Regions from separate parts of the Homo sapiens genome. Here regions 2 and 3 are each linked to region 1. The links come from fine-mapping of genetic effects on gene expression. A gene starts in region 1. Each other region holds a variant in brackets. All regions are shown on one strand. Distances are from middle to middle. Region 1 holds the start of CYBA (cytochrome b-245 alpha chain). Region 2 overlaps ZC3H18 (zinc finger CCCH-type containing 18). Region 3 overlaps ZC3H18 (zinc finger CCCH-type containing 18).

Region 1 (2,637 bases):
TGCCCTAAGCTGCACCAGCGCTTTGCCAAGATGGGATGGGGAGGGGGTATGAGAACTGGCAGAGCCTCGGTGCAGCAGGGCTGAAGGGCTTTCTCACCCCAGCTCTGGCTATGCCCAGTTCTCTGAGAAAGGAGCTCAGTGGGGAGGTGGTCCCTCCAGCGGACCAGGGAAGGGGTCACCGTGCTGGGAGCAGCCTCCTTGGGCCTCAGGAAACCACCAAGTGCCTCGGATGGTGGCTGCCCACGGCGCTTCTGCTGAGACCCTGCCCCCGGCCCAGGTGTCTCGGAGGGTGGCTGCCCACGGCCTGGGTGTGGCTGGAATGGTGGCAGGAGTGGGCACCAGTGCGGCCCCGGTGGCCATGGGGAATAAACCAGCATTGCTGCCTCCGGCCTCCGCCGTTTTTCTGTTTCGTAAACCAGCATCCCGGGGTTCCTGCTCTGAGTGACCCTGGCACCTGTCAGGGAGTCCAGGTGTGCCCCATGAGGGCCTGGGGGAGGGGCAGGCTGGGCAGAGCCACAGAGGGGCTCCCCTCAAACCCCACATTGGCTCAGGTGGGACCCTCAGGAGCAACCCCAGGTCTAAAGTCTTCCCATGGGCGCTGGGCTCACCACCCCCACGCCAGCCCCTGCCTCCCGTACCCAGGCCGGACGTGACGGGGCCGTCCCTGCATTCTGTGCTTTCCCAGTTGTACACATCCTGTCCCCTCCCTCGAGTCTCAGTCACAGTTCAGTGACCTGGTGACGGGAGGCCCCCTGCAGTGTCTGACCCAGGCCACGCCTGTGCCAGCCCAGAGCCAGGGGGAGGAAATGGGGGCTGGGCCTCTGGTCCCCATGGGGAGGCCACCCTTGTCCTTGGTAGCATCAGGGTGCAGAGGTGTTCCCGGGCTGTAGGGGTGACTCCCCCACCCCCCAAGGCTCTGGAGAGGCCGATTTGCTCAGGAAGCCGACCTTCACACCTTGTCCTGCTATTAATAGACGCCTGGTTGACACGGGACCCTCGGTTGGGTCCGGAGCATTGGGCAGGGGCACTTGTCAGTGTTTGAGAGCTGAAGTTTGGGAAGCCCTGGGGAAGCGCAGGAACTCCCCGCCTGGGCTGGGGCTGCCGGGCAGGGCCCCTCCTATGCCTCGGCGTGGCTAGAGAGGGCGGGGGCAGAAGGCTCCGGGACAGCCCTGCACCCTACAGATGCGGGTCTCCGCCCAGCCGCGGTCACCTGGGGGGCTGGGGGCGGGGCCTGGGCGGGGCGGGGTTCGGCCGGGAGCGCAGGGGCGGCAGTGCGCGCCTAGCAGTGTCCCAGCCGGGTTCGTGTCGCCATGGGGCAGATCGAGTGGGCCATGTGGGCCAACGAACAGGCGCTGGCGTCCGGCCTGAGTGAGTGCACGTCAGGGACGGTGGAGGCTGCAGCCTGGAGGGGTGTCCCAAGACCCCAGCCGGGACCTCGGGCTACTTACAGGGTGGGGAAGTGGGGCGCCAGGCGGGCCAGGCCGGGCCGGGGTCAGGCCAGGAGGGTGCGGGGAACGGGGGCGGGACCCTCAGGCCGCGGGCTGGAAGGAGGAGTTCTGAGACCCCCAGTAATTCCCTTGCAGACCCTGCGGAGCGCGGCGCCCCTCCCCCATTCCCTTCTCTCGGTCCCCCGACTCCGCGAAGGAGGAAGTTGCAGCGCAGGGGAAGAGGCGGTTCAGCCCCGGTGGTTTCCGGGGTCACCGCCCCGAAGCCCCCGAGTGGGGGCTCCGGCCTGGGCATCGGGAGAAGCTCCCCTGCCCCTCGGTAGCCAGCTGGCCTGGAGGTCGCTCTCCCTGGGCTTGGGGTGGGGAATGGGCTCATGCCCTGGGGCTCAGCCCTTCTCATCTGGAGTCTGCGCTGGAGGCGGTCTGAGATTTCACAAGGCGCCGAAACCACCCAGTGACGGCCCTGCCCAGCCCAGCTGCACAGGCACTTTGCTCTTGGGGTGGGATGGCACAGCCCCCAGTCACCCTCCTGTGCATTTGCTCAGAGGTTCTGGTGAGGGCAGCGGACTCCATTTGGAAATGGACCCTCTCGGGACCAGGGCCAGGGAGTGTCTGGCCCAGCACGGGTGAGGCTGGGCTCAGGCGAGGTCTGAGGGCAGAGGCACCACTGCAGCAGCTCCAGGAAGGACCTGCACCGGGGGAGGAGTGCCTGGGAAGGGCCTGGGGGCTGAGGGTGAGGAGGAGGGGCCCGCTGCCACCACTCCCCTGGGGCTCTGAGCGCCCTCCCTGTTGTCTGGAGGGTGCGTGGCAGCTGGAGTGGGAGCAGAGACCTCAGGGTGGGAGGGCTGGAGGACGGGGCCCTGCAGCCTGTCCTGTGCCCAGGAAAGTGACCGCCTGCTTCGAGTCAGCGGCCAAGAAGTCGGTGGGTCAGTTCAGACAGCTCTCCCCAGAGCTGCCCCGTGAGACTCACCCTGCCTGCCCCGCACTCCCTACAGGAAGTAGACGGACTGAGGGCACCCAGCTGGGAGCCAGGAGACCTGGGCTCTAGTCTGGCCTCCTGCTGAAACCCTCCAGGGGCTCCTGGCCCGAAGAGTTAGAGCCAGACTGGACGCCCTGCACTGCCCGCCCTGGCCTCCCGGCTCTCCGGCCCCCTCCTCCAGCTGCCGTGCTTCCTTTCTGTTCCTAGATCTCC
Region 2 (2,795 bases), 55 kb after region 1:
GGTGGAGCTTGCAGTGAGCCGAGATCGTGCCACTGCACTCCAGCCTGGGCAACAGAGCGAGTCTCTCTCAAAAACAACAACAAAAAACAAAAGAGGTTGGGAAATGTTATTCTATAGGGGGTTCAAAAATCCAGAGCCTCAGAGAGATTTAAAGAAAAACTGACTATGCAGTCATCCATCTGAGACTCAACACACTACAGAGCTCTTCATGGTTTGCCTCTGAAAATACTCATGCAGTATTCAAAATCACGTGTGTAACTAAACAAGTAACAAAAGCTCATTGTAAAAAATGTCCAAGTACAGAAAAGTGCTGACAATAGAAACCACAGCTTTTCTGTACTCCTTTTCCTTTTTTTTTCAGATGGAGTCTCACTCTGACTGAGTGAGACAGTCCCAGGCTGGAGTGCAATGATGCAATCTCGGCTCACTGCAACCTCCACCTCCTGGGTGTCAGTGATTCTCCTGCCTCAGCCTCCTGAGTAGCTGGGATTACAGGCGGGTACCACCATGCCAGGCTAATTTTTGTATTTTTAGTAGAGACGGGACTTCACCAACTTGGTCAGGCTGGTCTCGAACTCCTGACCTTGTGATCTGCCAGCCTCGGCCTCCCAAAGTGCTGGGATTACAGGCGTGAACCACCACACTCGGCCTCTGTACTTCTTTTTCATCTAAAATATGTATCTGGGTGGTGGCTAAATGTTATCGTTCTTTTCTGTATTTATGAAAATTTTTAGGACATCACCTACGAACCTACTATCAAAAAAGATCCTTTCTCACTGATATTGGCATGGGGAGAAAAGAGGAACAAGGCAGAAGAGAACAAACCAGTGAGCGCCAAAGAGCAAGCTGAGAAGGCGAGCGTGGGGCTGCCACTAGAGACCAGACACTAGTGGGTGACAGTGTTCAGCTCTCGGGAGCCACCTGCCCGGGGGTGCTGAGCGCTGTCCTGCCCCTGGCCAGAGTAAAGGGGAAGATGGCTCTGGAAAGCAGCACAGTTGGTCTGCACGTCTAGCTGGGACACACTTCCAGCAGACGTCAGGCAGAAAGAACACCATTGTCCCATCTATCTTTTTAAAATGTGAACTTTTATCTGTGTAGGAACACACCCAACTGTCGGGAATGTGGGAAGGGGCTTTAGATTTTATTTTCTTGCCTTCTGCCAGCCCATATTACTTTCTTTCCTTTTTTTAATTTTTTTTTTTTTGAGATGGAGTCTCGCTCTGTTGCCCAGGCTGGAGTGCAGTGGAGCGACCTAGGCTCATTGCAACCTCTGCCTCACAGTTCAAGCAACTCTCCTGCCTCAGCCTCCCGAGTAGCTGGGATTACAGGTGTGCACCACCAAGCCCGGCTAATTTTTGTATTTTTAGTAGTGACAGGGTTTCGCCATGTTAGCCAGGCTGGTCTCAAACTCCTGAAGTCAGGTGATCCGCCCACCTCGGCCTCCCAAAGAGCTGGGATTACAGGTGTCAGCTACCGTCCCCAGCCTTACTTTCATAATTTAAAAAGCAATTTGTTAAAAAAAAAAAAAA[A/G]AAAAAGAAAGAAAGAAATTATCCAGAAAATAGAAGCAACAATAAAGATCTTCTGGTTTACAAATGGGACTTCAAACCCAAAATTTATGTGGATTGTGATTCTAACAGTATAAAGATAGTTCTGCGGATACTGTGTACACAGACATGGCCTCAGGCCAGAAGAGGACAAGGAGGGACAGAGGCCGCTGGAGCGGGGCGGAGGCGGCCCCTCCACTGCTGAAATGTCTAAGTACTATTTCTGGCTTCAAGACAGGATGATGGTCTTTTTCTTAACTGGAATGTCGGCACAGCAGCAACTGGTTTTTCTTTTGTTTTGTTTTTGTTTTTTTGAGATGGAGTTTTGTTCTTGTTGCCCAGGCTGGAGTGCAATGGCACAATCTCAGCTCACTGCAACCTCCGCCTCCCAGGTTCAAGTGATTCTCCTGCCTCAGCCTCCCGAGTAGCTGGAATTACAGGCATGCACCACCACGCCTGGCTAATTTTGTATTTTTAGTAGAAACGAGGTTTCTCCATGTTGGTCAGGCTAGTCTTGAGCTTGCGACCTCAGGTGATCCGCCCGCCTCGGCCTCCCAAAGTGCTGGGATTACAGGCATGAACCACCACGCCCAGCCAACTGTTTTATTCTCTTATTAATCTTTACGCTTGTGTAAACACTGTATTATTTTATATATATGAAATATTTCATAATCAAATGAAATACTTGTAAATAAAAAATACCCACCCACTCTAAAAGGTACACTGTGAAGTTGACCACCTATCCCATGCCTCCAGGGCCATTCCCAGAGGCAGTTATCAATATACTGGGGCTCCATCCATCAATCATTGCCCCCTTTTACCTGAGCATATATATTATGCTCTGTGCTGAACCTTGCTTTTTTTCACTAAACAATGTAACTACAGAAAGGGAACCTGCATGCTCAGTAGCAACCAACCCAAACTGGATCAGGGAAACAGACAGGAAACAGATAGGAAACATGGAAAATCCGGAAACTAAACACAGAGGTGGCAGGAACTGAGGCTCAGCTCATGCTCCAGCACAGCCCACACATGAAGTATCTTTAAATGTCTCTTCTGATTTTGAATACAGTAAATATCAATTCCCTGTGTTTACTTGGTTTATATGTGTCATTTCTATTGATACGTACGATATTAGAAATTAAGAGACACTTAAAGATATCTCATTATTTAACAATAACAAGATATCCAATATATAGTAACAAATATTTATGAAACTGTTTTTAAAATATTTGGTGAGAGGAATAGCAT
Region 3 (2,795 bases), 35 kb after region 1:
GCATCGTAATGACGTGCCTCGGCGGTGAGCACACCCATCGGCCTAGCTATAAAGATTAGGTTTCACATAAGGGACCGCCCCCTTAGCTCTACAGATGCATTTGATAGAATTGATTGAAAGGTTCTGCTCTAATCATTTTAAAACAGCCCAGGTGGAGGAGTGGGTAAGCCTCAAAAGGCAAACTAGGACGGAGAGAGCGGCACAACTCCGTCTCCAGCCGCAGGTCCAGGGGGGAGCTGGTCAAGAAGCCCTGCCAGAGATACCGATGGGGATGAGATCCCGACGGGGACAAGCTAGCCAGTAACTCCCAGAGCCAAACAGCTTAGGCAGTAAGAGAGAACCTCAGGAAAGAGGGGTATTAGCTTAGAGATAAGGAAAAGAAATGGCTCCCCCATGGACAGAGGGCTGGCCATCAGATAGCTCAGGGCAGTGTTTCCTATTGGGGCTCAGCATTATCCTTCCCGGGGGAGGCCCTCAACTCTACCCAGGACACCCATGGCACCCAAACAGTGGCCGACTCTCGCTCCTCCCGCTGCACGACTGTGCCCCCTCTCGTGAAGCTTGGGGTGGTGAAGTGCCTGCTATAACGAGCCTGGGCCGCGCTTCAGACCAAACAAAAGTGACTGCGCTTCACTAGGGTGTAGCCCCCATGCAAGGCCTAGCCCTGGTGCAGCCGTGCTGGACACTGCAGAGCCCCTCATTCGTGTTCTGCTTGGTAGCTGAAGGCAGAATCTTCCCAAATGGATCTCCCTGGGTAAAACTGTGTCATTTTCTTCCAGTTTAGGTGAGAAAAGTTCTTTCTATCCACCTAATGATTACAAACTCCCAACCTGCCAAAGACCCACCCATTCAATACGTGTATTACTGCAAAGGGAATTCAGCTGCTCCTGAAAAGGCAGCCAGGCCAGTTCTGGCTGATAAGGGAGAAGGAAGCAGGAGCACTGGCTGGAAATTCTGCGCTGGGGAAACCCTTGTCCTCCAGGCAGGTAGCGGGCCTGGCAGGGCTCCCGCAAAGGTGAGTGAAGCCAAGACCGGGGACTCCCCAGCACCCGGAAGCCGGCTGAATGAATCCAGGCAAGCGACGCAGAGAACGTCAGCCCTGCTGCTGGCAGCTCCGAGAAGGGGCTGAGGGCAGCCCCAGGAGCACAAGCAAGTGCTTCAGGAAGGAAAGAAAGGGACGTGAGCCTCGCAGAAGGGAAATGAACCAGGTCAGAAACAGGTGGGAAGAGCGGCTCGGCCCAGTTTGGTGAGAGCAGCTGTGTTTGATTTTAAGAAAAACTCATTTAGTACAGAGTTTCCTGAACCCTAGCTGTGAGCCCAGATCAGGCCAGACAAC[G/A]TCTGAGCACCTCCCAGTCCCTTCCTGAATGTAAGACTCCTCTGTGAAGCTGAGGGCTCAGGGGCTGGCGATGGCAACCTGCTGCCTGGTGGCCATGCTGGCAGAGTTACCCTCTCCAAGCCTCCTGGGATCCGTCACCCGCTTTCCTCTGGGGAGGCTGAGCACACAGGAGACGGGCACAGCAGTCGGGAATCTGCCCTCCCATTCCGCGGGTCACTAAAGTGCGGGCCACAGCAGAGGAACACAGCAACCTTAGGCATGGCGGCCCTCTAACGCGTACTCCAGAAGTACATTCTTGTACACAGAAAACATCCCTGAGTTGGAATTACAGACTCCTGACTGGGAAGAGCCCCCGGCTGCTTAGAAACAGGCAGAATACATGACTAGGGGCTGGGGAAGGGGGTCTGTGGCCAGGCACGTGTGCCCATAAGCCACCAAAGTGGACATGCTGACGGACTCATAAACCCAGAGCCACACAGCACAGTGACCTTCCACGTGGATATCACTGCCTTTCTATGTCTCTGCTTCTAAAACCAATGATCTGGGTGGCGTGAAAACCCCTATTTTGTGAATCTGGAAAGCAGACTCAGCTGGTTCTGTTTGTAGAAATCAATGTGCAATTTTAGCAACCCTGTAACAATCAATTATGACATGCAGGTAAAAATGCAGGCTGATACCAAATCCAAAACTCACGGACAGCACCCCCAAATGTGGGTAAGCACCAACCTGTGCGGGACTCTGGGACAGGCACAGAGGCTGCAACGGGGAGCAGGGCAGACGGTGGTGCCCCAGGACCATCTGCTGCAAGGGCTCCAGATGGGCACTGAGGGCCATGAGGAACAAGAAAGCAGGCTGGCAAGCAGGAGGGGATGGGGAGACTTCCCTGTGCAGAGGAATCTGAGCAAAACCCTGGAGGAGGTAGAGGCAGCCCGTCCGGGCAGAGGGAACGGAGGAGGTGGGGGCAGCCTGTCAAAGGCAGAGGGAACGGAGGAGGTGGGGGCAGCCTGTCAAAGGCAGAGGGAATGGAGGAGGTGGGGGCAGCCCGTCCAGGCAGAGGGAACGGAGCAGGTGGGGGCAGCCCGTCCAGGCAGAGGGAACGGAGCAGGTGGGGGCAGCCCGTCCAGGCAGAGGGAACGGAGCAGGTGGGGGCAGCCTGTCAAACGCAGAGGGAATGGAGGAGGTGGGGGCAGCCCATCTGGGCAGAGGGAACAGGAGGTGGGGCAGCCCGTCCAGGCAGACGGAATGGAGGAAATGGGGGCAGCCCATCTGGGCAGAGGGAGCGGCTGGGGGTGTGTGCACGGGGTGCTGGGCTGCACCTTTGCAGTGGGGTCTCAGGGGAGAAGGCAGCCTTAGGCTGAGTGCACACTGAAAATACTGTGTGTGCTGTAGGGGAAGGGCTTCTATCCAAAAGGGCTTGAAAGGCTGAAGAAGGCGGCACAATGTCAAGGTCAATGACGGT

The links. PIP is the estimated chance that this variant, and not a neighbour inherited with it, causes the effect. A credible set is the group of variants that fine-mapping cannot tell apart.
Region 2: its variant is the best candidate, but not a certain one, in a credible set for the expression of CYBA in whole blood (INTERVAL, PIP 0.88).
Region 3: its variant is the best candidate, but not a certain one, in a credible set for the expression of CYBA in pancreas (GTEx, PIP 0.69).

What each region holds. Positions count from the first base shown.
Region 1 is chr16:88,649,687-88,652,323 of GRCh38, reverse strand. It overlaps CYBA (cytochrome b-245 alpha chain), which reads left to right and starts at 1,271. Exons shown (of 6, transcript NM_000101.4): 1 at 1,271-1,368. The coding sequence starts at 1,311. It overlaps MVD (mevalonate diphosphate decarboxylase), which reads left to right. Exons shown (of 10, transcript NM_002461.3): 10 at 1-384. RefSeq lists enhancers at 672-821, 249-1,143, 1,144-2,037, 2,038-2,637 and silencers at 1,082-1,361, 1,512-1,661.
Region 2 is chr16:88,594,215-88,597,009 of GRCh38, reverse strand. The region is part of intron 3 of ZC3H18 (zinc finger CCCH-type containing 18); the gene reads right to left. Among named protein-coding and RNA genes, the nearest start is that of ZC3H18, 25 kb to the right of the region's middle. The variant A/G (reference allele first, on the strand shown) is at 1,530.
Region 3 is chr16:88,614,724-88,617,518 of GRCh38, reverse strand. The region is part of intron 8 of ZC3H18 (zinc finger CCCH-type containing 18); the gene reads right to left. Among named protein-coding and RNA genes, the nearest start is that of IL17C, 22 kb to the left of the region's middle. The variant G/A (reference allele first, on the strand shown) is at 1,337.